7 separate regions of the Homo sapiens genome follow, and regions 2, 3, 4, 5, 6 and 7 are each linked to region 1. Evidence: fine-mapped expression QTL. A gene starts in region 1. Each other region holds a variant in brackets. All regions are shown on one strand. Distances are between the middles of the regions.

Region 1 (4,064 bases):
CTTCCTGGAATGGGCGCACGCGAGGCACGGATTTCAGGAAACCTCTGCCGTGACAGCTCACCCACGGTGGAGGCGGAGGCCTGGGACGCTGGACGGAGAAAGGCGGCCAGTGGAGGGAGGAGGGGTAGGTCGGCAACGCGGTGGCCTCGGACGTCCGAGCTGCCCGGACGAAGCGCTGGCCCCACTCCCGCCCTTGGTCGCCGCGGTGACCCCACCCGAGCCGTGACCTCCCCCAAGATCTCAGGGCCCGGGCCTCCCCGCTGCGCCGGCCCCAGGGTGCCACCCTCGGACGCCCAGATGCGCCCTGGACCCTGCGCCGGGATCCTGAACACCGCCGCGCCTTCATCCCGCGCCGAGCGCGCCCGGCCCTGCTCCGGCTGCAGCGGGCACGAGCCCCAGGCGGGCGGCGGGGACGCAGCGCCCGCAGTGCGACTGGCGCAGCCGCTGAGGCACGGGGCGCGCCGCCCGGACCCCGACCCCGCGGCGCTAGGAGAGGCGCGGGCGCCGGCTGGAGAGCCGCACCTCCCGCCCCGCCGAGGCTGCTGGCCACGGGCGCGCTCGCCCCAAGGGCCGGGCGGAGGACCTGTCCCGGATTCCAGAGGACGTGGGTGGGGAAGGGACAAGGATAGGGACAAGGGAGGGGACGCGAACTGGGCCGAGGTGTGGGTCAGTCCTGGTTCGGGAAGGGAGGCCGTTGGCAGGGCCATCAGGATCCTCTCTGGACATGGAAGGACGGGTCTGCCCTGGACCCAGGGATTGGGAAATGTGGGTTCTCTCAGAACCTGGGGAAGTGGGGAGAGGGTCTGTTCTGGAGTGCGGAGGGAGATCTATTCCGGGCCCAGGACAATGGGGGTGGGGGCAGGACGGGAATGAGGGGGCATTCCTGGTGCAGGGAGGGGAGACGGAGAAGTAGTAGGGGGTCTGCTCCGGGCCCGCGGGCTGGGGACCACGAAGTGTAGGAGGGCACCGTCCAGGACCGGGATGAGGAGGGAGAGGGGCCCGTTGTGGCCCTGGATAGAGGGGGAGGGAAAGTGCGCCCCGGCCCGAGAGGAGGAGCAGGAGGGTCAGTCCTGGACCCGGGCTTAGGAAGCCGGGAGGGAGGTTCGGATCCGCCTCAGAGACAGGGCGATGAAGATCTGTCCAAGTCTTGGAGTGGAGGGAAGGATGTCGGCGGTGGGGGAAGAGGCCGGCCACGGACAGGGAAAGGGAGTCCGTCTTGTAGGGCGGACGGGCGGTCCTGGGGAAGGGAGAGGCCGCGACGCGGGGGGCGTCCGGCCCGAGCGGGGCCGCTCACCTTGGGTTTGTAGAGCCACTTTCGGAACCTGTTCATCATCGCCGCGCCGGCCCTGGCCGGACTCCGGGCGGCCCTCGCCCTCCGCAGCGCTGCGCCCGGGCCCGGCTGAGGCGCGGGGCGGACGCGGAGGCACGGCCGGAGCCCCCGCGCTGTCGCAGGGAGGCTGGCTAGCGAAGCCCGGAGCGCCGAGCGGGCGGCGGGCAGGTGCGCGGGGCAGGTGCGCGGCCCTGAGTATGCTCTGCAAGCGGCGCGCCGGGCAGACCTCAGACCCGGGAGTGGGCGCTCGGGCGCACGGACAGACGCGGGCACGGGGGCGCGCGGCTCCTCGCTGCTCACTGACACCCAGCGCTCCGCTGGTCACGGCCGCCCCGCGCCGCACATGCGCCTAGGGCGCCGCGAGCCCCGGGCCCACCGCGCGCTGCGGGCGGGGCGGGCGGGGCGGAGGCGGCCCAATCCCTGCGCGGGCGCCGCACCCCGCCCGAGGCGCGCTCCCTGCCGGCGGGGCGACCCGCCGCGCCCGGGTATCCAAGAAACTACAAGTCCCGAAAGGCATGGCGGGGAGGTGGCGCCCAGGGCTTGGCGTCCCGGGCCGCGCCGCGGCGCTGTGTATTGTGGGAGTTGTAGTCCACCCGATGGCGGCGGAGCGTGCCGCCGGTTGCTAGGTGACGACGCCAAACAGCCGCGGCGTCCTGCCTACCGGGAGCTGACGGACGACGACTGCCAACACCTTAGCCCCAGCTGGCCCAGGAAACTGCTGCGGTGGCAGGTGGCGGCGGCAGGAGGGCTCGGCTGCCCCGAGCGCCCGCCAGGTACGGGGGCGGGACAGGTGCGGGGCGACGCGCCGCCGATTTTCATGACCTGCCGGCCGGTTCCCTCTCGCTCGCTGCTCATCTTGCTTCTCCCAAACACCTCTTCTGTCTTCTTCCCAGCTCCCCGATGAAAGTGAACGGTGCCTCTTTTTTTTTTTTTAAATCACCACTATCAGCGGTGCGTTCTAAAAAGATACTCTTCCGCCCTCGCTACTCCCCCCAGTGGTGCCCTAATTTGTACCTTAAAACGCTCACCTCAATCTGAGTACCTGCTATGTGTCAAGCAGAGAGCTAAAAACCCACACGTGGCCTCACTTAAACTTCCCATTGACAGCCAGAGAAGCAGGCACAACGAGGCCGGCGTGCCCTGGCTGTGGGGGTTGCATCCAGATCACGGCGGATCTGGGTCGGCCTGACCCCACAGCGCTGCACTTTTCCCTGCCGCACCACCACCACGTCTCTGGCTTGTTGTGAAACGTGCAGATGTAAGACACAGGAGATGGAAGTCATGCCCCCCTCGGTTCAGAATTGAGAAGTCTGACCTGTTCCTGCTTGTCCTCACTGGCCAGTGCCAGGTGCTCAGAAAGGTCCGTGGGCTCCATGACCACTTTATTCCAACAGACGCGATGTGAGCCTAGGCGCGCTGGCATCTAAGATTTCTCTTAGTTGGGGGTAGGGTCCATGTTTATTTTTGAGTAACTGATTGATTTTCCCTACTCTCCTCTTCCTACCACCCAGTCGACCCTCTGAAGGGCAAAACCCCTCTGGAGTTTCCCCTTATCTCCAATTCCTTCCCACTTGTTCTTTCTGGAAACTACTCCCATCAGATTTTCACCCAACCACTCCTCTGAAGCTCTTTATCAAAGTCATCCTTGACCTTGATGTTGCAAAATCCGATGATCGGGGTCAGCGCTCATCTCTTCCTTGAACTGTCACTACCACGTGACCCAGCCGACTGTGCCCTCTCCGTGACACAGCATCCTCACTTGGCTGAAACAGATCCCACTGTCCACTTCTCCTCCTCGCTCCTGGCCACTCCTGCTTGATCTCCTTGGCTGGATGCCTCCCCTGCTCACCGACCTCTCAACACTGGAGACCCTGGACTCAGTCCTTGGAACCTACTCTATCCACTCCCTCCCTGGGGGATTTCCTACAGTTACATGGTTTTATAAACAACCATTTTCTCCCAAACTTCTCAAAACCTATATCTCTAGCCTCAACCCTGAAACTCCAGACCTGTTTACCTGTTCTTCACCATTTGGACGCCTAACAGATCCTCTCAAATTTAACGTGTCCCAAACCACACTCTCAGTCTTCCCCCATAAAACCTGCTGCTCCCAAAGCCATCATTTCTTCAGCACAGGATCTTGGGGTAGACACTTGATGGGCTTGTCCACTGAGTGAATGGCTGTTCTCTGTGGGTCTATCCTTGGCCAACTCCAAGGCCTGGAGCAGTTGTATCTGCTCAGAGGCTCCCTTCCTGTGTTTTATAGTTTGAAATTGTGCATGGGATGAAGGCTGAACTTGGGGAAGTGGGGTATCAGTTAGGTTTAGCTGCATGTATTGAAAAATCCCAACATCACAGTGGCCTAAACAAGAATATTACTCATATTTTTATAAAAGAGGTCCATGGAGAGGCAATCGTGGTTGGTATGGCAGCCCTAAAGTCCTCAAGGATCAGCTTTTCTATCTGCCATTCACGTTTCTTCATGATCCAGGATGGCTGCCCACATTCCTGCCATCACCTCCTCGGCCCAGGAACCAGCTGCAAAAGAGAAGATGGATATGCCTCTCTCGTTCAGGGAGACTTTCCAGAAGTCTCACACCTTTCCACTTCTTGAAGGTGGTGGGAGAACTTAGCCACACAACCATGCCCCAGCTGCCAGGGAGGCTGGGAAATGCCATCTTTCAATTGGGCAGCAGTAGACCCAGCTAAAAATCAGAGTTTTCTTATTTGGGAG
Region 2 (4,064 bases), 80 kb before region 1:
AGTAGGTGAGGAGTGAGGGGGTGAGGAAGGTGACAAGGTTTGGACGTCCAATCCATCATGCCAGAGCCTTCCAGCTTTTGTCCTCTGACAGTGACTTCACCTGCAGGATCTGACCTTCTGGCAGACAGAAAAGCGACCGTGGGGCGGTGGAAGGGGGCCGGGCAGAGGTAAAGGCAGGGGTGGCCTCTACCCTCTGCCCACCTGTGAGGAGAAGCCGGATGTAGTGTGGGAAGACACGTCTGGTGCCTTCCATCTGGGGCACTCCCGAGACACAGCAGGTTCCCCCAGAGCTGCCCTCTGCCCCGGGCCTGGAGTGAGGCAGGGACTCCCCAGATGCTGCCCCCAGCCCCTAAGCATCCCTGTGCTCACCTCTCCACCGTCTCGCAGAAGAGCACGATGACCTCCTGCTGCACGTAGTACTCCCTGGGGGACTTCACAGGCACCATGGCCGAGACGTAGCTGCAAACACATGGAGACCTGTGAGGCCGCACCTGGGCTGTGGCGGGGCCCCTCCAAAACAGAGTGGGGGGCATCTTCAATTAAAGCTGCAATGCTGGGCAAGGTGGGGGCGGGGGGCCTCACGCCTGTAATCCCAGCACGTTGGGAGTCTGAGGTGGGAGGATGGCTTGAGCCCAGGAGTTCGAGGCACCACAGCAAGACCTCATCTCTACAAAAAATAAAAAAGTCGGGTGTGGTGGTGGCAGGCACCTACAGTCTCTGCTACTTGGGAGGCTGAGGTGGGAGGATCACTTGTGCCCAGGAGTTGGAGGCTGCAGTGAATGGTGATGGTGCCACTGCATTCCAGGCTGGGTGACAAAGCAAGACCTTTTCTCTTAAAATACACACACACACCCTACACCACCATCCCATTTCGGCAGTTTCATAGTACACAGCTCCTGCCAGCCAGGCCTACCCCAGGCCTTCCCTTGAAACCCCAGCCCTGCCCATGCGGGACAGTTGTGCCAGCTCCCAGGGCTCACCCTGGAGCCTGACCACCCTGGACCCAGTGCTGCCCATGTGCGGGACCATCCCCCACCTTGGCACCAGCCTTAAGGGGCGAGAGAGAAACGAATGAACACGTGCACGGGTGGGTGAACAACCCGCAGCCCCACATGAACCTCCGCACGTGGACCTCCACAGCCACGGAAGCCAGCCCAGGCTGGGCACAGCGGCTTGCAGGAGGCCTGCCAGTGGCTCTGAGACGTGAAGGCTTGTCCAACCCTTCCCCAGATGAGAGCACTTTCTTTCCTTCTAAACCACCAACTCTAGGCCAGGTGCAGTAGCTCACGCCTGTAATCCCAGCACTTTGGGAGGCCAAGGCCAGCAGCAGATCACTTGAGGTCAGGCATTTGAGACCAGGCTGGCCAACATGGTAAAACCCTGTATCTACTGAAAACACAAAAAAATGAGCCAGGCGTGGTGGTGGTCACCTGTAATCCCAGCTACTTGGGAGGCCGAGGCAGGAGAATGGCTTGAACTCAGGAGGTGGAGGTCGCGGTGAGCTGAGATCGTGCCACTGCACTCCAGCCTGGGCAACAGAGTGAGACTCCGTCTCAGAAAATAAATAAATAAATAAATAAATCACTAACTCTAATTTTTTCTTATGGAAGCTGATTTAGAAAATTTGGGGAAGACAAGAAAATAAAACTCGACTGTCCGTGCTCTTGCTTCCTGCAGAGGACTGCCCTTAATGCATTGGTTGATCTCCTAGGGGCCAGTAGATTACAAGATGAAAAACTTATTAACTGAACCTCTGCGGACACCATCTGCCTCCGTGTTTTGTTTGTTGTGGTTGTTGTTGTTTTGAGATGCAGTCTCGCTCTCTCGCCCAGGCTGGAATGCAGTGGCTGGATCGCAGCTCACTGTAGCCTCTGCCTCCCGGGTTCAAGCGGTTCTCTTGCCTCAGCTTCCTGAGTGGCGCGCCACCAGGCCCGGCTAATTTTTTGTATTTTTTTTAGTAGAGATGGGGTGTCACCGTGTTAGCCAGGATGGTCTCGATCTTCTGACCTCATGATCCGCCTGCCTCGGCCTCTCAACGTGCTGGGATTACAGGCGTGAGCCACCGCACCCGCCTGGCTGCCTCTGTTTTCTTCTCACCTGTGACGTCTCTTCATCTTCCGAGGCATCATGCATGTCTGGCCCCTCGGGCCTCTCCAAAGCCCTTCCCCTGGAGGCCCACGGCGGCCAGATCCACACCTGTGTCCTCTGTGCTCACCCCACTCCCTGGAAAGATGCCCCACCTCACCTCCACGCTATGCTCTCCAGGGCTTAACCCCACCCACAGGCGGCCCTGAACCTGCCTGGCTCCTCCCTCTGTGGAATTTTCCAGCTTGAAGTATCAGGGTGAGCCCCGGAAGCTGGCACAACCGTCCCCCAGCTCATACAGCCAGGGCTGTGGACCCACAGCTGCAGTACCTGAGCTCAAACTC[T/C]GCGAACAGGACGTCGAAGTGCCTCAGCGCTTCCCTCATCTTCTCTGTGTAGGTGTTCAGGTCCCGCAGCGCCTGGTCACGGAGGGCGCCCCGCACGTCCTCCAGGCTGCGCGTCAGCTCCTTGGCCAGCGGGCGCATGGCCATGCTCTCCAGCTCCCGGTTCATGATGATGGAGCCGGCGGCCAGGCACTGCGGGAGGGGACACACTCAGGGAGGGGCCCGGGTGAGGGCCAGGCTCTCAGGGGTCGCCGACCCGGGGAACCTGACTGCGCACCTCGGGGCCCCTCTTCTCACCCCACAGCACAGGCCAGCTCGTGTTCCCGGTCCCCGCAGGAGGTTTTTCTTACATTCAGAGCAATCGTGAGGGCGATAACCGATGTCCCCCAATGTGACCCACGGGGTCCTCACAGGGCCCCAGGAGCAGGGAGGGCAGGGCATGGCAGGGCAGGTAAGGGCAGGGGAGGGGAGGGCAGGGGAGGGGAGGGGAGGGGAAGGTGGACTGAGGCCCTTGGGTCTGGGGGCTCCCTGCAGGAGGAACCCTGGTCATGTGACTCTTTTCCGCTCCCCGTCCAGGCCACAGGGATGAAGTTCAAGGAGCTTGGAGCTTCCAGGCTCCACAATCAGGTCTGTGCTCCCAGGGATGAAGCAGCCGGGCTGATCCGGGCCCGAGGTCCCCAGCCTATCTAGGGAGCCACAGACACCACCTGTCAAGTTGCTCACTGCCAGAGAAACGCAACCTTCCCCGGAACGCAGACTCATCAGTGTGAGAGTCCCTGGGCTCCTGGGCAGGTAAGGAGGGCTCCTCCGCACCCACAAATCCACCCATGTCTGCCCTGGGTGCTGCGAGGCAGCTCCCCAGCGTGCGCTCAGCAACTGGGAATTTCACCAAGCTGCCCTCTGGCACAGGGGCTGAGTCCAGGCCCTGGTAGACCTGTTGTCACAGGGAGGCTTGTCTAGAGGCCGGGGCCTCGCCAGGTTTAGGATAGAACCAATCCACCTGCTGTCCCCTCAGGGATGATCAAGTGATGCAGGACAAGAAGCCATTTCCCAGGTGACAGAATGAGACGGCGCTGATCGCCCAGGCCCAAGCTGCAGGTGGGCACAGAGCTTGGGGCACCAGGACCACACAAGGAGCTGTGCCCACCCCTGTGCATGCATGCCCCTGCCAGGCCAGCCGGGCACAGAACACGCTCCATCTCATGACTGCCCCAGGACCCACTCCACGGAGGTGGAAACTGAGGCTGGGGAGGAGGGAGAACCTGCCCGCGGGCCCCTGTAACTAACCCAAGCCTCGGCAGAGGACACCCCAACCAGGTGGCTCAGAAGGTGGGGTGGGCAGGGTGGACACAGGGACGGGGCAGCGTGGGATGAAGACTCCGCACCCCAGGGATTCCTAGAAAGGGGAGGCGGGCAGGATGGGGACGGCACAATAGAGAGGGTGGCGGTGTCGGGGCTGAGGTCAGGCTCGGGAGCACGGCAAGGGGAGGAGGCTGGGGAGTCCGCATGGTGGGGGCCTGGGGGAGACTGTTCCCGCCACCTTGAAGGGCACCTTCCTCTCGGTGCCTCAGTTTCCTGATTGGGAGATGAAGATGAAGATGACAGGCTATTGCCACATGTGGCCTGCGTGGGGCTGCA
Region 3 (4,064 bases), 42 kb before region 1:
CTCTTCTTATCCTCAAGCCCTCTTTTTACAGGAAAATGTTATAATTAAGTCATTCCAACTGATTTTAAGCAACTTTGCATCAGTAGGGGGTTAAGTTCTAACAAGGCCCAAATCACCCAGGGTCAATCAGCCGGGCCAGCATCGAAGGAGGCCCCGGTACCTCCCCAAGGGTTCTGCCGGGCTCTTCCCCCTGCTGGACAGCAGTGGCTCACACTGTGACCCCCAGATAAAGTCACGACTTGGTGACCAAACTGAATGAATCCACACCCAGCCAGGTGCTGGCTCATGCCCACTGACAAGAATGAGCAGCGGCTGAGCTCACTGCATTTGCTTGTGCTAAAGGACGGTGTGAGGAGGTAGCTTGCCCCACACACTAACCCCTCAACTCCTCCATGGACCAGGAGGAGAGGAAACGACGTGGCGCCTGCCCTGGGGGCGGGACACAGGACTGTGCCGCCCCCACCTCTTATCACAGGCTGAGAAAGCACCGCCCCACACACAAGGGGCATCCCACTGACAGCCTCCACCCCTCCCTTCTAACCCTACCATGTGGGGCGATTGGAGCCCCAGATTTCAGAGTTCACCATGAATGTGCAAGATCTCATAGTTTTCATATTGATTATATGTTAAAACAATATTCTGGTCAAATAATTTTTTTTTTTTTGAGATGGAGTTTCGCTCTTTTTGCCCAGGCTGGAGTGCAATGGCACAATCTTGGCTCACTGCAACCTCTGCCTCCTGGGTTCAAGTGATTCTCCTGCCTCAGCCTCCCAAGTAGCTGTGATTACAGGCGCCTGCCACCACGCCTGGCTAATTTTTTGTATTTTTAGTAGAGACGAGGTTTCACCATGTTGGCCAGGATGGTCTCAATCTCTTGACTTCGTGATCCGCCCGCCTCGGCCTCCCAAAGTGCTGGGATTACAGGCATGAGCCACCGTGCCTGGCCCCAAATAAAATATTATTAAAATTAATTTCACCTGTTTCTTTTACTTTTTTTTTTTAATGTGGCTACTAGAAAATTTCAAATTGGCCAGGCACAGTGGCTCAGACTTATAATCCCAGCACTTTGGGTGGCTGAGGTGGGAGGATCATTTGAGCCCAGGAGTTTGAGACCAGCCTGGGCAACATAGTGAGACCCTATCTCTAAAAAAAAAAAAAAAAAAAAAAAAAAAGTTTTTAAATTCGCCAGATGTATTAGTCCATTCTCACACTGTTATGAAGAAATACCTGAGACTGGGTAATTTGCAAAGGAAGGGGGTTTAACTGACTCACAGTTCTGCATGGCTGGGGAGGCCTCAGGGAACTTACAACCATGCAGAAGGTACCTCTTCACAGGGCAGCAGGAGAGAGAGTGAGTGCCAGCAGGGGAAATGCCAGACGCTTATAAAACCATCAGATCTCCTGAGAATTCACTCACTGTCATGAGACGAGCATGGGGGGAACTGCCCCCTTGATTCAATTACGTCCCATCAAGTCCCTCCCACGACATGTGGGGATTATGGGATTACAATTCAAGATGAGATTTGGGTGGGGACACAAAGCCAAACCATATCACTGGGTATGGTGACATGACCCTATGGTCCCAGCTACTTGGGAGGCTAAGATGGAAGAATTCCTTGAGCCCAGGAGGTTTAGGCTGCAGTGAGCCAAGATTGCACCACTGTACACCAGCCCAGGCAACAGAGCGAGACCCTGTCTCAAAAAAAATAAATAAATAAAATAAAAGTGTATACGTGTTGCTTGCACCCAAAGCTCTCACATCCTATTTCTATTGGACAGCACTGGTCTAAGACTTTACTTTTTTTTTTTTTCTGAGACGGAGTCTCGCTCTGTCACCCAGGCTGGAGTGCAGTGGCGCGATCTTGGCTCACTGCAAGCTCCACCTCCCGGGTTCACGCCATTCTCCTGCCTCAGCCTCCCGAGTAGCTGGGATTACAGGCGCCCGCTACCACGCCCAGCTAATTTTTTGTATTTTTAGTACAGAC[AG/A]GGTTTTGCCGTGTTAGCCAGGATGGTCTCGATCTCCTGACCTTGTGATCCGCCCGCCTCGGCCTCCCAAAGTGCTGGAATTACAGGCGTTGAGCCACTGCGCCCGGCCTAGGGCTTTACTTTTATCTCTATTTTAGGACACACATAATTTCTTAAACAATTATGAGCTAAACTCGCTGACATTTTATCAGTTTCCACCCTTGCAGCTGTTTCTTTTATCCCATCATCTTTCCTCCGAGTTCCCTTTTCTTGCTGATGTACATCTTATAATAGGAAATGTTACAACGAGCATCTGTAAATGGTTAAAAATGTTTGCCTGAAAAATGTCTTCATCTTGCCTTCTGCCCCTTCACTAGCAGTTCATTTGGGTCTAAAATTCGGGGCTGCCAGTCGCCTTCCCGCCGCACTGTGGGCTCATTCTCTATCTTGCGGCACTTGGGGTTGCTGAGAAGAAACCTGCGGGGCTTTTTCCATTTCTCGTAGTTACTCTGTCTTTTCTGTTAATTCTAAAGATTCTCTTCATCTTTGACATTCTGCAGCTTTACCACAATACATCTCAGTGTGGATTTACTCCCAGGTATTTCTGAACGATGTGAATATGTTCTCAGAACGGTGTTGTCAATTGACTTCATTATTGTGCAAACATCAGAGAATGGACTTCCACAAGCCTAGATGACCCCGCCTCCGACAGACCTAGGCTACATGGTAGAGCCTGTTGCTCCTGGGCCACAAACCTGCACAGCACGTTACTGTGCTGAACAGTATACTGTAGACAACTGTAACACAATGGGAAGTATTCGTGTACCTAAACAGAATAGGTACAGTCAAATACGGTTATCCTAACAGGCTGGGCGCGGTGGCTCACGCCTGTAATCCCAGCACTTTGGGAGGCTGAAGCGGGCGGATCATTTGAGGTCAGGAGTTCGAGACCAGCCTGGCCAACATGGTGAAAACCCCATCTCTACTAAAAATGCAAAAATTAACCAGGCACGGTAGTGCACGCCTGCAGTCCCAGCTGCCGGGGAGGCTGAGGCGTAAGAATTGCTTGAACCCGGGAGGCGGAAGTTGCAGGGAACTGAGATCACACTACCACACTCCAACCTGGGTGACGGAGCAAGACCCTGTCTCAAAAAAATAAAAAAATATCGTTATCATAACTTATGGGACCACCATTGTATATGTGGCCTGTCACATGGCCCATGACTGCACATTTCTTTATCCTACTTGGAACTCCTTTTATCTCAGAACTCATGTCTTTCTTCAATACTGGGAAATTCAGCTACCATTTCTTCAAATACAGCTTTTCCATCATTCTTTCCTCTCCACTCTCTCCCTGGGACTCCTATGAGACACTTTTTGGAACTTCTCCACTGAACTTTGATGCTTTTTCCTTCTTTCTTAGGGAAGCTGCCCGACTCCCGGCTGGGGCTGGTCCTCCTGTGGACTGTGAGGCAGCACCCTGTCATTTCCTCTGTACTGCTTTCCTGGATTGAGACTAGGTATTGATCCACCCCTGCTCCATCCACCCACCCAACCACGAATTTTGGAGCCAGCCAAAACGACTACTTGTTTTTGTTTCAGACCCGATACCCAGCCTTTCATTCTCCCAGGGCCTGCCACAGATCTTGATTATTCCCAAAGAAAGAAGAGGCAAACTGAAGCCAAATCAGAATCAAGGTCCACCTGCCCCTTCCCAAACCACCTTAGACTCCCACAAGGGTGGAAGCTGGTGCCAGAGGCTCTGAGCAGAGGGCTCTTCCTCTATGGGGTACATCTGCACCTGGATGTTTCTGGGCTCCAGGCATCCTGGTGAGCCACTGGGAAGGTGTCCAGAACTCCAGGGGCCTGGCTGTCTCATGACAGCAGGGGGTAGACGGGGGCTGGTCACATGGACAGACAGCATCTGAGAGTGGCCAAGCCCCCCAGTCTGCACCATGCTGGCAGCAGAACCCGTGCCAGAGAGCAAGGAGGTGTGGGCATTGGGGGGACCGCTCCAGGGAGAGACAGAGCCCTCAACAATCAAAGAAAGCAATGGGAGGGACTTACAGTTTCCTCATCTACCAAGAAAAGGAAATCTC
Region 4 (4,064 bases), 88 kb before region 1:
CTGACACATGCTACAACATGGGGGAAACTTGAAAACATTATGTGAAGTGAAATAAGACAGTCACAAAAGGGTAAATCCTATATATTAGGTTGGTGCAAAAGTAATTGCAATTTTTGCCATTAAAACCCTAAGAAAGGGTCAAAATGGCCAATTTTGTTATGTATATTTTACCACAATAAAGAAGAATGTTTATTGCTTTAATTTCTGTTTACAAAAGTTTTACCTATCAATGTTAAGAAACTCTGTAAAATAGAGACATACTATTTGATAACAGTTTTTGTGCTTAATACACTGGGGATGTTTTTGCATAGCATTAGGAGATTTTTCTCCATCATTATTTAAATGGCTACAGTATTGTTTTTAACCAATCCCTTAATTCTGGATATCCATCCCTTCTCAAATTTTTATGATTACAAGTAATACTTCGGGGATAATCTTTGTGGATATATATTTGTGCCCCCTCAGATCAATGCAACAAAATTCTGCAAAAGTCCACCACACTATGACATGACAGGCACTCAGGATGCATCCGTGAATAAGAGTTATAGTCTAGTGGGGGAGACACAAAAATAACAGAAATCCCATTTATATGAATAACCCAATAGCCAAATCTATAGAAACAGAAAATAGATTTGTGGTTCCCTAGGGTTAAGGGGCAGGATGAAGGATAATAGGGGGTGGAGGTGACCGCTCAGGAGTAAGAGACATCTTTGTGAGTAATGAAAATGTTATGAAATTTGTGGTGATGGCTGCACAATTCTGAATGTACCAAAAACGACTGTGCACTGTAGATGGGTGAGTCATAGGGTAATGAATTTTATCTCAGTAACATGGAAAAATAAATAACAGAGTAAGTCACGCAACCTGCTGGTGGGAGAGGGCTTGGGTGAGCGGTGCAGTGGTGGGGACATCGCAGAGGGAGGTACAGCAGGGAGTAGGGGACAGTGCAGAGGAGAGGACAGCACGGAAGAGGGGACATCATGGAGGGGACAGCACGGAGGAGGGAACATCATAAAGGAGGGGACAGCATGGAGGAGGGGACAGTGCAGAGGAGCACAGGGGAGAGGACATTGCAGAGGAAGGGACAGCATGGAGGAGGGGACAGCATGGAGAATGGGATAGCATGGAGAATGGGATAGCATAGAGGAGGGAACAGCATAGACAAGGGGACAGCATAGAGGAGGGGACAGTGTAGTGGAGGGGCCAGCACCATGGAGAGGACAGCATGGCCAAGAGGACACTGGAGCAGAGGGGACAGCGTGGAGGAGGAAACATCATGGAAAAGGGGACAGTGCGGGGGAGGGGACAGTGTGGCAGTAGGGATAGGACAGTCAAGGGGACCCTGAGCGAAGGGGACAGCATGGTGGAGACCCAGGGCAGCGGGTGCGTGGGGACTGGGGAGAGAGGACTGGTGTGGGCACGGTGCAGGCAGATCACGGTGGGAGCTCCGGCAAGGGTCTGAGCAGGGCAGAGATGACACCTTGTTTTGACACAGGTGGATGGGTGAGGGCCCCTGAAGAGGATCCGGCAACCATCCTGCAGGCCACGTGGGCGGTGGCTCCTGCACGTGTTCTGGGATGGGCTGGAAGGAGGGGGCTGGGGAGGAAGGCAGGGGTAGACGCTGGGATGGGCTGGAAGGAGGGGGCTGGGGAGGGAGGGAGGGGTAGATTCTGGGATGGGCTGGAAGGAGGGGCTGGGGAGGAAGGGAGGGAGGGGTAGAGGAGAGGGGCCTGGG[T/C]TCTGCACAGGTCCGGTCTGGGAAGCGTCGCACACACACAGCTGTGAGTGCAGACGGGCGAAGCCGCAGCGAGGCGGGCAGGCAGGTCTGTGCTGATGGGGACTGGGAAGTGACCACTGGGTCTAGAGGTTTTATTTCATTTCTTCCTTTAAAGGAACTGTTTTAAGGCCGGGGCTGGGCACGGTACCTCATGCCTGTAATCCTAGCACTTTAGGAGACCAAGGCAGGCAGATTGCTAGAGCCCGGGAACTCGAGACCAGCCTGGACAACACAGCAAGACCCTGTCTCTATTTTTTTTTTAATTAAAAAATAAAAATAAAAAGTTAAAAACAAAAAAAAGAAACTGTTTTAAGATAAATCCCCAAAAGTAAAACCAGTTTGTCAAAGAGTCTGAGCCTCGTGGAGACACTCTCCCCAGGACGCGTGTCTCAATCAGCAGGAGGGACTGACTGGATGCAGGTCTTAGGGAGGGGACAGGCTGAGGGGTGCAGGGCAAGTGGGGCCCCTCCCCTACGGCTCAGAGCAAGTCCCCACAGGGGTGACCCCCAGTTTTTGTCCTCACTGCCTGGTAAGGCCAGACCCCACCAGGCTGGGGACACCCTAAACAGGGGGAAGGGTGCCACCCAGCACTCCCTTCCACCTCCCCCTGCCAATCTGAAGGCCTCAGTTTACCACTGCCTCTGCCCCAGGCAGGCCTCCTCTGCCAGCCACAGAACTAGAGTTTTCTGCTTTCTTGTGTCACAGGTGAATAGCAGGCTCTGACCCTCGGGTGGGCTTGGTTCTGCCGCCTCCAGCTGTTGACCCCCAGCGGTGCCTTCGCCACTGGGAGCCCCTCAGAAGGGGACGGGAGCCTGGCCCGCAGCTCATGCTTGGTAAATGTGGCATCACTGTTCTGACACTGTGTGCTGGAGAAGGGACTGGGGCTCTCGGGCAGCAGCACAGTCACGGGCAGGAGCCACAGAGGAGCTCCACCCTCAGCTCCTGCCCCGCTCAGCACCCCTGCCTCCCCTCTGCTCTCAGTGTTCCCTGGGGGTCACCTGGGGGGTCCCAGGATGCCCACTTCACAGAGGCAGGATCCTGCGAGGGTGTGGGCCCAGGAATGCAGGCTAGAGGGGTCTTCATTTCTGCAGAAGTTCCTGCGGCCCCCTGGTCCTTGCTCGAGCCCTGGACTTGCCCCTGAGCATACACCACCTGCACCAACGTGCCCCTGCCTGCCACCTGCACAGCTCCCACCTCTGGGCCGGCTGCCCTGGGGAGCCTCTCCCTCACGCCTTCAGCTCCTGTCCACCCCATGGGGTCCCTGCACTGAGTCCCCCTTCCAGCATCCAGAACATTCCACAGCACTGTGGGTCAGCCCATCTGTCCATCTCCCTGGTACAAGCACAGGGCGAGGTATGCAGTAGGCACTCAATACTTGCTCACTGAATGAACACAGGAAGGAGCAGGTTCTGGGCCCCACCACGGGCAGCTGTGGCCTCTGCCTGTCCGGCTCAAAGCGGTCGCTGTGGATGACGAGGAACAAGACGGGATCCGCTGGTGGTGCAGGGCTGCAGGGCCCCAGTGAGCATCCCAGAGGGGCGGCCTTAGGAACAGCTGCCCACTCAGCACTCACCCGCTCAGCACTCACCCGCCCTGCTCGAGGCTCGCTGCACAGAGGGTTGCAGTGGCAGCCTGGTGCACCCCACGGTTCCTCGTATCCACAGCCTGGCTCTGTGGCTAGATGCCTGCCTCTGTGGGGGCTCACAGCTGGCCACCCCCCTGGACAGGCCTGCTCCCTGGACTCTGGCTTTGGGCTCTTATGCCCTCTCGCCCTTCCTCCCTCCTTCAATCCAAGCCCCCTTCACCTCCTGGGGGTCCCTCACTCCCTTTCCAGGCTCTCCCACTGTCCTGAGCCCGAGGGGACCCCACGCCAGTGCCTCCAGGAGGGGACCCGCGGGACAAAGCCTCTGCCAACAGAAGCTCCAGCCTCCCTCCCCAACCTCCCTCCCTTGGCCTCCCCCGCAGCACTGGCCTCCCCTGCTGCCCTTCCCTGACCCCCCCTGCTGCCCTTCCCTGACCCCCCACACTCCCCCACCTCCCTCCCCAAGCTGCCCCCCCACCTCCCTCCTCTGGCCTCCCCTACCCTGATCCCCCAGCCCCCGCCTCCCCTTGCCTCCCAGGATGAAAGCCTAGGACAGAAGGAGGAGCAGAGGTTTGGCCACCAGCAGGTGGACTGAGGTCGGCAAGCAGGACACAGATGATACTGGTTGGGGGAAGTGGCTGCTGTTCTGCGGTCGCCTGTACTCGGGCAAACACGGGCAGCAGACTCAGTGTGAAAGTCCCGAAACAC
Region 5 (4,064 bases), 34 kb before region 1:
CTCAGGTATGTCTTTATCAGCAGCGTGAAAACAGACTAATACTCCTTTCCCTTAGTGGCAGCGCACTTATCCCAATGCCCAGGATGACCTGGGGAATCAAATGCTGCTTTCGGTCACCTCCACTGACCCGGTATCTTCTGTTAAAATGCCTTTATCTTTTCATATCACGCTTCAAGTGTCAAAGCCTTGGCACCATCAGTGCAGACTGGAGTGAATGGCAGGCCACACACTGGAAGGAGGAGGTACGCTTCACATTGGTTGGGATTTTCCAGCAGGCCTTCCACAGATCTAGAATATTCTATTCCTAAGAGACCCTGACAGACAAGGCTAAGGGCCTTTCTCTGTGTGTGGTGTCGCTGGCGTGTGTTACAGACACTCGCTCTCCAGGAGCCATCTCCAGGAGCCATTCTTTCACAAGACTGGAGAAAATGAGGTCGTCACACAGGGTCATCACTCACAGTCTCTCTCAATGATGCCCTGATGACCTAAGATGTCCCCATCACCCTGAAGTGTCTCCACTGGGGCTGTTCTGCAAAGAAGGGCCTTGAGGAAGACAGGCAAGAGGGTAGGGCACATGTCCCACACAGGCAGAGTGATTTTTGGACTGGGGTACACAGAGTAGATGCAGTGTTGGGTTCCCACATTCTACCCACAGGGAAGAGGCCCCCGGGACTGTCAGCCAAAGTCAATGCCACAGAGCCCTCTCCTCCCCGGGTACTTCGACAAACGCTGAGGAACCGAGACTGCACTGCTGACAGAAGAAACTTTCTGGAAGGAATTCCCTTTATCTGCGAAGAGGAAACTGGTTTTGTAGGAAAGTGTGAAAGCTTCTGTACCCTACAGATTAAGTTATTCAAGAAGGGTCAGAGGGAAGTGACCACCCGCCAAGGGAGTGAACAAGTGCTCAGGGCTGCCCAGGGTCACTCCAGCTGCCTGGTTTCCCAGGACAGGGCTGTGACTGACCACTGGAGGGGGCACAGGCAGGCCACCAGGACCGTGACAAATGCAGTTTGGGAGCAGGAGTGAGTTTAAGCAAGAACGAGAGGAGGGGAAGGGACCAGGCAGCACCCAAGCAGGAATCTCCTCCTGAGGGAGTGCTGGATGGGGTGGGGGAGCAGAAGCACAGAGGGCCGACCCCTCAGGGCCCGGTGGGAAGGTAGGTGGGGAGGGAAACAGCCTTACCTGCCAGGATCATAGGGGGAGCATGGAAACACACAGCCAAGACTTGTGAACAAATGAATGACTGAATTACTTCAGAAAAATCTTTATTTAATTCAGCATAGGAAAAGAAGACAAAGGCCAGGAGCCACCTCACTCACCTGGAGTGTGAGACACCTGCCCAAGCTTCAGCCCACTCTGCACAAGGAGTCACACAGAACTCTTGCCTTTTCAAGATGTGACGGAGACAGGCTCAGGTCCTAGACTTGGGGGGAGGGGAGTGTAGGGCAATCATCTGTCCTGATTTTAAGGATTATCATAAACACACCAATCCTGTACACCCTCAAGGAGTGCAGCAAAGTGATAAACAGAGTTTGTAAAAGGCCTCACCTTTGAAGCCATGCATAAGCAAACCTAGCTGGCCTGACCTGCCCAGGACTGGCGAGAAGGGGGACCAGACTGGAAGGCCAAGTCACTCAGGGACCCACCTCATCACAACTGCAGAGGCTCTCTGGGAATACACCCGCACTGCTGCCACCCCTTCCCGTCAGTGGCTTCAGGACAGACAGACCTGGGCCATGGAGGAGCACAGTGATGACCCTGGCCTGTATGGTGGCTACTTACGGTAAGGGAGTGGGCCAAGAACAGCAGCAGAAAAAGGTGAGACCCACCTGAAGCAGGCCCCAGCGCTGAGAGAGCACCTGCTGCCCTTACAGCCCCAGCGCTGAGAGAGCACCTGCTGCCCTTACAGCCCCAGCGCTGAGAGAGCACCTGCTGCCCTTACAGAGCTGCTGTCTCCTGACCCCGGCCTGCCAAAGTTGGGATTTGAGACTAGGTCTCTGGACTGTCAGCTGGGACCCTGAGCAACGCCAAGCAGCAAAGCGCCCCTTTGTTTCTGCAGCGGGTCAGACCTACATGGTTGCCTACATGGCCTCCCACAGGCTTCGGACAGCAGAGAGGGCACCCACTGCCTGCATCTGAGCCTTTGCCCTCAGGGCTGACCTCTGACCTCCTACATGGATTCCCTCCAGCCCCATTGGCTTGCCTTC[T/C]TCAGGACAGCACGGGGCAGATTTCCCTTCTCACAAAACAAAAAAAACAAAAAACACACCAGGCTTTCACAAGGCGGGACTTGACACCCTCTCACACCCCCACTCCAGTGCTCCCAGCTCCTTGCTTAAGAGCCGCAGACAGGCGCCCTCACAGGGGACCCATCTGGTTCTCCGGGAAGTTAAAATCACAATTTGACTTTGTCAGTGGGTCCTGAGTTCACAAAGCGGAGTCTTTGAGGGTCCCCTACAAGCACTGCACCGGGCTCGCTCTCATCCCAGGGCAGAGCCAGCACAGAATTTAATTTTCCATTTGCAGACTAATCCCAAATGTCTCTTTTCTGTTCCCACCAAAAACCCCACAATTTCTTCCCTTCCCTTCCCTGCTGGTGTTCACTCCCACGGCTGCAGCAGCTGGCTTTCCACTCAGACAGGGCTATGGTTTGAATGTCCCCTCCCAAATGCACATGGAAGTAAATCCCCAAAAGAACAGTATTAAGAGGTGGGGCTGGCTGCACGCAGTGGCTCATGTCTGTAATCCCAGCACTCTGGGAGGCCAAGGCGGGTGGATCACCTGAGGTCAGGAGTTCAACACCAGCCTGGCCAACATGGTGAAACCTCCTCTCTACCAAAAATACAAAATTTAGCTGGGTGTGGTGGCGGGCACCTGTATTCCCAGCTACTCGGGAGGCTGAGGCAGGAGAATGGCGTCAACAAAGGAGGCGGAGGTTGCGGTGAGCTGAGATCTCACCACTGCAATCCAGCCTGGGCAACACAGGGAGACTCCATCTCAAAACAAAAAGAGGTGGGGCCTTTAAGAGGTGACTGACTGTCCTCATAAATGAATCCAGCCGTTTGTGGACTGAGGGTCAATGAGCCATCACAGAACGGGGCTGTCATAAAAGCTACCTTGGCTCTCTCTCCTAAGCCCCCTAGCCACGTGATGCCCTGGGACGCCTGGGGTCTCCAGAGTCCCTCCAGACAAGGAGGCCCTCACCAGACCATCCCTGTGACCTGGGACATCTCAGCCTCCAGGACTGTAAGAAACCCAAATGCCTTTTCTTTATAAATGACCCAGTCTCAGGTATTTCATTAAAGCAACAGAAAACAGACTAAGACAGGCGCTTTCAGCAGTAAAACCCCGCTGCGCGCCTGCTGAGGCCATGCCCGCCCGCCTGAGGTGCCAGCCAAGCTCGCTGCCCTCAGCTCGCCTCCCGGAGCAGCCTCCTAGTCCAGTCTTGTCTGGAAAGAAACCCCGCTGGCCCCCGGCAGTCAGGTAGCACGGGCAGTAGGGCTGAGGCCCCAGAATGGAGATCTCCGGACACAGCCAGGGGGTTGGACGGCTCCGCAGACTGCAGGAGACTCCGGGGCCGGGGCCGGGGCCGGGGCCACTCCCTGGAGGAGGGGGCTGAGCCAGGATGGAGAGCGGTGCCACAGTCCGTTTGCCTGCAGGAGGAGGCTGGCCCACCCCGGAGCTCGCCACCAGCGGCCTAGGGTCCCCCAAGGCTCCTGGCAGTCCACTGGGAACCCGGAAGCACAGTCCAGCCTAGGGCTGCGTGGCTCTCCCCTACCCATCCCCTCAGCCAGGGCCACCTCTGCACCTCAGTCTCATTGGGAAGGGAAACTGAGCTTCACGGCCGGAAGTGACGCAACTCTGCTTGCCCGTCATTGGCCAGAACCCATCACTTGGCCTGCTTGCCCTCCTGCCGGCCGGAAGCAGGAGACCCAAGTCCAGGCGAACGTGACGTCCTTGTCCTCGTGCTGTGCCTGGGGGTAATCTGCCTGTCAGGGATGTGCCGCCCCACTTGGCGAGCAGCTGCGGACACGGGATATGGGGCCAGGAGCAGTGCTGCCTTTCCA
Region 6 (4,064 bases), 120 kb before region 1:
TTCTTTCCAGCACTGGCCAGAGGACCAGGTAGGGGGCGTGAGGGAGAGAGGATGGTGAGGGGCTCCTTCCATGTAGCCGCAGCTGCTTGCAGGTGGTGCCCTTGAGTGGATGGTGATGGTGGGGAAGGATCAGGGTGGCAGATGTCGCAAGAGGTGCGGGGTGCGGTCCAGAGGCTAGGGGAGAAGCTGTGGTCACCAGGGAACAGAGGGCCTGTAAGGATGGGCCCTGGGTGGGGTCATGAGGACATGTGGGGGACCTGCGGTAATGACCATCCCCTCAGCCAGGCCTCCCCGAGAGCACAGCCAGGCTGGGGCCTTCTCTCCAGCTCTAGGCCAGCTGTGAATTGGGAGGAGGCCCATCTGCAAGAAGGGTGGCACCTCCTCCCAGGACTTTGCTGGCCTGCGTGCCTACTGCATCCAGGCCACCACTCAGGGCCTTGCAGGGCGATCACTGTCCCTTGTGGGGTTCTGGTGACACAGGCATCACCGAGCTTGCTAAGGTTTCATGCCTGGGGCCAGCGAGAGCAAGAACCCAGCCCTGCCCTCTCACCTGGGCCTGTGCACGGCGGACCAGCCCTGGTCTTATCCCCGACTCACCGTGTCAGCCCAGGAGGCCCCGTCACTTATAAACGATTGGCTTAATGACAGTCATTACACCTAATCTGTTTTTCAAGAGTCTAATTAATTCCAAGTCCTCCTCTATTTTTAAACCCCTCAATCATTCTTGTTTTTCCTGCCAGGGGCATGAAGTGGGTGGAAGGTCTCGGTGTTCCCTGCAGGACCTCGGGACACCTGCTTTAGGGACCAATGGCTGCAGCAGCCTAGCAAGCACCTGCCACCGGGCCCCAGACAGTCTGGGGGAAATGGCAGCCGTGTGAGCCTCCCAGTGAGGGGGAGGGGAGGCCCGCGGGGCGGCACCTGCTGCTCAAGGTCACAGGCACTGGAGCAAGGCCGGGCTGCCTCAGTCCCAGACCTGTCACTCCGTCCCCTTGTCCTGCAGTGGGTCCACTGGGGAGCCCCCGGATCCGGAGAGCCCCCACAGCCCAGCAGCTCAGCCTTCTACCTGGAGGCTGCCTGTGTCCTCTGAGCCCCCAGAAGAGCTCCACACTAGGGCCGGGCCACTGAAGGCTCTGTCAGCCCTGACTGCGCTGCAGGGAGGGAAGCGTGGGCTTCCGGGCCACCGAGGCCACAGCACCGCATGGCCCTTGGTTGAGGCCCCACCCAGGGAAGGGGCTGAACACCTGTCTGCTGGTGGGAAAGCCGAATGGTGGATGTGGGAACGAAGCACATCAGAAGTGCCAGCCCAGCAGCAGGTGACTCCCCACGCAGCGGCGCCTTCACTGATGTGCCAGCTACAACCTGCCCTCCTCTGGGCTGCGCACCGGGAGCCAGGCTGGGGGCCACAGGACCCTCTGTGTCATGGCCTGGAGGGGCCCAGGAGGATTTGCAGCAGCGACCTCACCATGGGGCAGAGGGTCAGCAGGCCCGGGAGAGCTGCAGCCACCTCGGGATAGACCGGCTGCAGGCTCTCCTCCGTGACACCTCTGAGCCCTGTCCTCACACTGGCAGAGGGCAGAGGAGCTTGGTGGAATGACCCCAGGCCACACGGAGGAGTCGCCAGGTGGGGCGCGGTGGGTGGATGTTCAAGCTGGAGGCCAGGACCCACTGTCCGGGAGCGAGGTCATGAAGCGCCACTGCAATGCCTGATGCCACCCGGGATAGCTGTCACCGCCAGAAGAGCGGGGGACAGAGATGTGAATCCAGGAAACAATGAAATCCAGAGGCAAAGCCAAGACTGATCATGGCAAAGATGGCCAGGAACAGCTGCAAGCGCAATCTGGGAGCAAGGTGAGCAGTGACAGTGGGGTGACACGGTGATATAGCGACATGGTTGGCTGTGCTGGGAGGAACGGCAGAGGACGAGCAGTGACAGTGGGATGACACAGTGACACAGTGACA[C/T]GGCGGGCTGTGCTGGGAGGAACGGCAGAAGACGAGTGGTGACAGTGGGGTGACACGGTGACACAGTGACACGGCGGGCTGTGCTGGGAGGAACGGCAGAGGACGAGCGGTGACAGTGGGGTGACACAGTGACACAGCAGGCTGTGCTGGGAGGAACAGCAGAGGACGAGCAGTGACAGTGGGGTGACACGGTGACACAGTGACACGGCAGGCTGTGCTGGGACGAACAGCAGAGGACGAGCAGTGACAGTGGGGTGACATGGTGACACAGTGACACGGCAGGCTGTGCTGTGAGGAACGGCAGAGGACGAGTGGTGACAGTGGGGTGACACGGTGACACAGTGACACGGCGGGCTGTGCTGGGAGGAATGGCAGAGGACGAGCGGTGACAGTGGGGTGACACAGTGACACGGCAGGCTGTGCTGGGAGGAACAGCAGAGGATGAGCGGTGACAGTGGGGTGACACGGTGACACAGTGACACAGCGGGCTGTGCTGGGAGGAACGGCAGAGGATGAGTGGTGATGCGTGAGGAGTGCATCCTGCCATGTAGCTGGGGCCTGCTGTTGGTCCGTTTTGCATATGACAAAACTGAGGCTCAGGCTGAGCAGTCGGTTCACCAGGCACTGCCTTTCCCCTCACATCTGCGTATGGAGCAGGGCACTCCCCACCATGACTCCAGCGATTCCTCTAAAAGGGATATCCCTCAGTGTCTGTCATCTGTCTGCCACTGCCAAGTTCCGGAAGGAAGGCGCACACAGGCGGGGCATGTGCCACAGGGTTGGGGCAGAGGCTTGGCCACTGTCTGTCCTGAGAAGCCTGTGAGACTCCTACCATTCTACCTAGAGCAACGGCCAGAGAGGATGCTGAGCACGGTGGACAAGTGGCAGGGAAGGGAGGACTCAAGTACAGTCACAGAGGCGCCCGACTGCACGACGGAGCAGGCCTGGCCTTGCCCCCGTGGGACGGACAGTGACAGGCTCTGAGACCTCCCTAAGCCAGCGCCCGGGCAGCCTTGACCGTGTGTCAGGACGGCCACAGCCTCCGTCAGTCCCACTCTGATGCACAGAGGCCCTTGCGCTGGTTCCAGCCTCCTCCCGACTAGTCATCGGGGCTGCAGGATTGATGGCAAAAAACAAAACCCAGGCCACCAGAGATGAGAAGAACATTCCCCGGCCCCACCACAGAGGAGCAGCGCGCCTCGCACCACACGCGATCAACCAGAAAGGCAGAGGAACAGACTTGTTTCTAGAATTTCTATAAACTTAATTACACAAGATAAAATTGAGGACATCTGCAAATCAAAAGACATTCAAAAACAAAGTCAAAGGGCAAGAACAACTTGGAGAAAGCCACCAACAGACCAGACGGAACATTTTCAAGTCCAAAAAGCGTGACATCCCAGCTGAAAAACAGCAGAAAACACAGTCACTTCCCAGAACGAAAAACGCAGGCGCTAACAGAACAACTGCCCAGGTTGGCAGTGATCAGAGGGGGCAAACCTCAGGAACAGCGAAGGGTACTCCGTTTTTCCCCCTCAAGTTGGAGTTGGAAGTGTTGGCGAGGGATGGCACTGCTGGGGGTAATCAGCTCTTTCTGGAAAGCAGTTTGACAGTGAGTGGCAGAGCTTTAAAAGGCTTCATACCTTTGCTGTGGTGATTCTACTTCTAAGGACCAATTCTAAAGAAATAATCCAAGGCTGGGCACAGCGGCCCACACCTGTAATCTCAGCACCTTGGGAGGCTAACACAGGAGGACAGCTTGAGCCCAGACAGGGAGCTGTGTTTGTGCCACTGCACTCCAGCCTGGGCAACCAAGGGAGACCCTGTGGTTAAAAAGAGAAAAGAGAAGGAAGGGAAGGGAAGGGAGGGGAGGGAGGGAGGAAGGAAAGAAAAGGAAGAAAGAAAAAGAAAAGAGAATCCAAGAGGCAGACAAAAAACCATAGAGGAAACTATAAAACCATGTTCAGTGGAAAAAAAAATAAAACTGTTCATAAGATTTGGGGTGATATTTATTTCCTTATTTGTTTTGTTTTTTAAAAAGATAGGGTCTTACTCTGTCACCCAGGCTGCAGTACAGTGGTACAGTCATAGGTCACTGCAGTCTC
Region 7 (4,064 bases), 57 kb before region 1:
GCCCAGAAGCAGGCTGGGGAGCCAACCCTTGGCCAGACCCCTCCATGCTGCAGTGCCATGCAGGAGGGCCTGGGAGCCCTGACATCCACTTAGCAAACCCTGCCAGGTAACCCTCCTCCAAGGTAAAACCTCAAATCTGTGGGCCTGTACAACTCTGAGGAAGCTGCTCTTGGGGTGGGCTCAAGCTTCCCTGAAAGACCCTGGGGACCCCCATCCACCTGGAAGGACAGCCCCCTCGGGCCCTGGACCTGAGCCTCGGAGCCTTTACCCACCCCGGACAAGCGCACGGCGTCTACAACAACCTGCGAGGCCATTTGTGGTTCTCTGTGATTTGAGGAGGCCTCCATGATGTCTAGGGGCCATGGGCTCTGACGGTATAATTGCCTGCGCGTGGGAAAGGGGCATCCTGAACAGCGTGTCCAAAGCCATTGCCCCCGAGAACAGGGAAGCTCCGAGTGTCTTCACGACCACGAGGAACAACACTCACCACACCCCGCCCCACACCATGCCATGACGGGCACCACAGTCACACTGCTGACTTGGCATCAGTGCCCACAAGCAAATACCCTGCCGCTGTACCTTGATTTCAGTAAATTAAAGACCTTAAAACCAGACCTACAAAGGTGTTGACCATCTGCAAAAAGAGAGCTGTAATCACACACACACACACACACACACACACACACACACACAGGCACGCACGCACACACAGAAACCCCGTGCTATTTGAAAAGCTGAGTTAGCCCCTGAGCTAGCGTCCCGGCCATTCAGGACCAGTATTTCAGAGGAAGAGGCCAAGTTTCCCACATGGTCCCAGCAGTGCCTGGGGCGGGAGCAGGAGGGGTCTTTATTCATTGTGTCAGTCATCCCACCCAGACCCCTCACTGTGAGCAGACACCTTCAGGCAGGGGTCCCAGGAAATGAATGAACACAGCTTACAAAATTCAGTCTATCCTGATTAACAGAATCCAGAAGAAAATTTGGGGTACTAAATTTCCATTTCTAAGTATGCAGAGTATAAAGCAAACAATTATAATCTCAACCTACTCATCACTTAGTGTTAAATCTGTCCAGCACGACGGGGCTCACCCTCAAGTGAGCCTGCGGGCCCGACAGATAAATGGGGAGGGGCGGTTAATGTTCCATCACTGACAAAGCATCTCCCTTTGATTTGAATCCACCAGCTTTATTCAATGACATTTTACAATTTCATTTTAAATTCAGTTTTTAAATGTCCTTAAATACAATGTCCACAATAAAGGGAATCAATTGATATAAATAGGAAGTACTCACTTGTTAAAATTTTTGAAATAAAAATTGTAAAAGAATAAATTAGAACCTAGTAGGAAGCTCTTTTAAAATCACACTACATCAATATTTTCTCAAAGATAAATTTTCTCAAAGATAAACAGTGAAAGTGTTCACTGTTAAAAGGAGTCAAACCCGTAAAGAAGGCATTTCGTTCACGGGGTCAGATGACTACTGAACGGACATCCTCAAAAAAAGCAGGAGAAAATATGCACGAACAAAGCAGCTCTCGGTTCAAAAAATACAAGGATGGACTGACTCTGGGCTAATTTTGTAAAGCTGATTAAACTGTTAATTCATTCGAGCCCCTGGTCCCTAATGTGAGCTGTGGCTGCAGGTGGGAGGTGCGGGTTGGAGGCACGTGCAGGGAGAGAGACGCGGTGCGCACGTGTGAGCTCAGCCCGTCTGACCCACGTGTGATGACCCTGCAGTGTTTCCCAGCAGTTACGAGGGCTGGCCACCGGGCTCAGAGTTTACACGCACTACCCCACCCACTGGGGCAGGCCCCAGCCACCTTGAGGCCCAGGAGGGCTGGGGCTCCAAGCCCTGCACAGGGCACGGAAGCACAGCCCATCACACCACGCCTTCCACCCAGACAAGGAGACTGACACTCCTGAAGGTAACTCATGGCCAAGACCACATCGCTGGATGCCAAGGCGCCAGATCTCAGCCCAGGTGTCACTAGGACTCTCTGGCATCTATGTGCGGTAAGGGGGTAAGGGCCCAGGACTGGATCCCTTTCACACTCTTGTTTGCCAAATATGACATAAATCCTGCAGGTGGGGACCTTAAAGAGACACCTTGTCACTCCAGGGCAGCAGCATCACAGTCTTGGCCGAGCTGCGGCAGGGAGGATGGGAGCAGGCAGGTGGCGGGACAGATGGGAGGACAGGCAGCACAGCCAGGCCAGAGAGGACCAGCCCCGCCCCATGGGCCCCAACAAGGGACGGAAGCCCAGTCCAGCTCCTACTGCCTCCCTCCCCACACAGCTGAACCCAGGACATAAGCTGGGCTCTAAGCTCCAGTTCCCAAGACAGACCACCCCAGGCAGCCAGCTCCCTACCCCTACAGCCCCCACACTCAGCCGTGGAGACCCAGGTGTGTTTGCCTCCTAGATATCAGCAGATCTCCAGGAGACAGTGGTCACATGCAGACTTCAGCTGGACAGAGGCT[G/A]GAGCATGCAGGGGTGAGGACCAGGTGTCTGAGGCACCGCCTGGGCCTCTCCAGGGCCAGCTTTCCATTAAAGCCTGGGACTTCTCGCTCCAGCACCAGGAATCCAAGAGCATCGCAAAGAAGCCAGGGAAGAGCCTCTGCCTGGGACACACAAATGCGGCCCCACAGCTGTGACCCCCACAGCAGCTGTTCCTCAGCCCTCACCATGACCAACTAATGGCCGAGCAAGCCCCTCCACCCCTCCACCACTGGGGCTAGAATTGTTCACTGCTGCCAATCACAGGCCCAGCCCCTCCTGCACATGCCCAACCCCTCCTGTCCGCACTGAGGCCAGACGTCCATGGGCAGCCATGACCCATGTCCCCAAGGCAGGCCTCATCCACAGCAGACACCCCAGGGGCTGCCAGGCTGGGGGCCCACTGACCTGGCAGCACCACCAGCCACCGGCAGCAGATCTGGGGCCCCAGACAGGCACACACTCCTGTGGTCCCAGGCACAGCCGTGCTGCCACACCCACCCCAATGTTACTATTGTTGCTACTGTCTCCCTCCCCATCCATCTGTCCCCTTTCTCTGCCCTCCTCTGGGGTCAGGGAGCTGCAGTGGGCACGCTGGGTCAGCAGGAGGCCTGGCAGGGAGTGAGGATGGGACGGTCCTGCTCACTTCCTGCCTTGGCCTCCTGCGGACCCCACCCACCCCTGCTCTCTCTCAGGACTCGGTACTGGCCCTCCCTGTGGCCTTCGGGCCCACACGTGGCACCAAGCCCTGGGCTCATCACCATCCCCGTGGTCCCCTCAACCCCATTACATGGTGAGTGTCCCCAGCACAGCCTGACCAGGGAACTGCTGAGACTGCTGGCTACTTCCTCCGAGACTCAGAAGACCCTGGCAGTTCTAGGGCTTGGTGGGTGGGGGCTGGACACAGTTTAATCCCTCATATGACCGTTGACCGGTCACCTGTGAGAGTGGCATATATGTCACCCAGCTCAGGTCACCTGTGGGAGTGGCATAGCTCAGATAATCCCTGCAGGAATGTTCTCCAGGGGGCCTGGGATCAACCCAGCACTCCCAGCTTTCTTGCTTGCTGGTAGAACGTGCTGAGGACGCGGCATCCAGAGATAGGGAGGGACTGCCCAGAACAGCCTGGAACTTGTCCTTGACCCTCCCAGGGACTGTAACAGCTTGAGTTAGGGAGGAACCGCCTGGGCTTTGCTTCTTTCTCCCTGGAAGCAGGGTGTCCTTCAAAGCTTTGCCCTGGGGGTCACGTGGTCCCTGAGGGCTCTAACCTGCGGCTGCTTGCAGGGCCCTTTAGCCCTGGTGCAAAGAGAAGCATGTGCAGTCAGCAATCCATCTGCCCTGGGCAGCCTTCCCGACACTGGGGACTGGCTCTGTCCCTTGCTTCCTATCTGTAAGTAATCAACCTGTGTTGCGTAACTTGTATGTGAGCATGTAGGTCACCAGCGCATGGAGGACTAAACAGTAGCCCAGGATGCAGTGCCCACAGGCAGAAGTTCCTGGTATTTGGCTATGACGATCTTTGCTGTTCTCCACGAAGTAGGAGTCTTCTCTTGGGACTGGTAATTAG

The links. PIP is the estimated chance that this variant, and not a neighbour inherited with it, causes the effect.
Region 2: its variant is the best candidate, but not a certain one, in a credible set for the expression of ZFYVE28 in pituitary (GTEx, PIP 0.54).
Region 3: its variant is the best candidate, but not a certain one, in a credible set for the expression of ZFYVE28 in skeletal muscle (GTEx, PIP 0.85).
Region 4: its variant is the best candidate, but not a certain one, in a credible set for the expression of ZFYVE28 in whole blood (INTERVAL, PIP 0.75).
Region 5: its variant is the best candidate, but not a certain one, in a credible set for the expression of ZFYVE28 in cerebellar hemisphere (GTEx, PIP 0.64).
Region 6: its variant is the best candidate, but not a certain one, in a credible set for the expression of ZFYVE28 in pancreas (GTEx, PIP 0.52).
Region 7: its variant is the best candidate, but not a certain one, in a credible set for the expression of ZFYVE28 in whole blood (TOPMed, PIP 0.87).

What each region holds. Positions count from the first base shown.
Region 1 is chr4:2,416,991-2,421,054 of GRCh38, forward strand. ZFYVE28 (zinc finger FYVE-type containing 28) reads right to left here and starts at 1,655. Exons shown (of 13, transcript NM_020972.3): 1 at 1,295-1,655. The coding sequence starts at 1,333. CFAP99 (cilia and flagella associated protein 99) reads left to right here and starts at 1,965. Exons shown (of 16, transcript NM_001193282.4): 1 at 1,965-2,103. RefSeq lists an enhancer at 1-374 and silencers at 1,380-1,539, 1,660-1,889, 2,130-2,179.
Region 2 is chr4:2,337,038-2,341,101 of GRCh38, forward strand. It overlaps ZFYVE28 (zinc finger FYVE-type containing 28), which reads right to left. Exons shown (of 13, transcript NM_020972.3): 4 at 2,416-2,618; 5 at 370-459. LOC124900649 (a long non-coding RNA gene) reads left to right here and starts at 2,731. Exons shown (of 2, transcript XR_007057991.1): 1 at 2,731-2,877; 2 at 3,003-4,064. RefSeq lists an enhancer at 2,376-3,065. The variant T/C (reference allele first, on the strand shown) is at 2,430.
Region 3 is chr4:2,375,227-2,379,290 of GRCh38, forward strand. All of the region lies in intron 1 of ZFYVE28 (zinc finger FYVE-type containing 28), which reads right to left. Among named protein-coding and RNA genes, the nearest start is that of ZFYVE28, 41 kb to the right of the region's middle. The variant AG/A (reference allele first, on the strand shown) is at 1,986.
Region 4 is chr4:2,329,453-2,333,516 of GRCh38, forward strand. All of the region lies in intron 6 of ZFYVE28 (zinc finger FYVE-type containing 28), which reads right to left. Among named protein-coding and RNA genes, the nearest start is that of MXD4, 69 kb to the left of the region's middle. RefSeq lists enhancers at 1,462-1,961, 2,276-3,073, 3,074-3,871, 3,862-3,941, 3,872-4,064. The variant T/C (reference allele first, on the strand shown) is at 1,736.
Region 5 is chr4:2,383,489-2,387,552 of GRCh38, forward strand. The region is part of intron 1 of ZFYVE28 (zinc finger FYVE-type containing 28); the gene reads right to left. Among named protein-coding and RNA genes, the nearest start is that of ZFYVE28, 33 kb to the right of the region's middle. RefSeq lists an enhancer at 3,495-4,009. The variant T/C (reference allele first, on the strand shown) is at 2,208.
Region 6 is chr4:2,295,818-2,299,881 of GRCh38, forward strand. All of the region lies in intron 8 of ZFYVE28 (zinc finger FYVE-type containing 28), which reads right to left. Among named protein-coding and RNA genes, the nearest start is that of MXD4, 36 kb to the left of the region's middle. RefSeq lists a silencer at 2,398-2,497. The variant C/T (reference allele first, on the strand shown) is at 1,960.
Region 7 is chr4:2,359,735-2,363,798 of GRCh38, forward strand. All of the region lies in intron 1 of ZFYVE28 (zinc finger FYVE-type containing 28), which reads right to left. Among named protein-coding and RNA genes, the nearest start is that of ZFYVE28, 57 kb to the right of the region's middle. The variant G/A (reference allele first, on the strand shown) is at 2,482.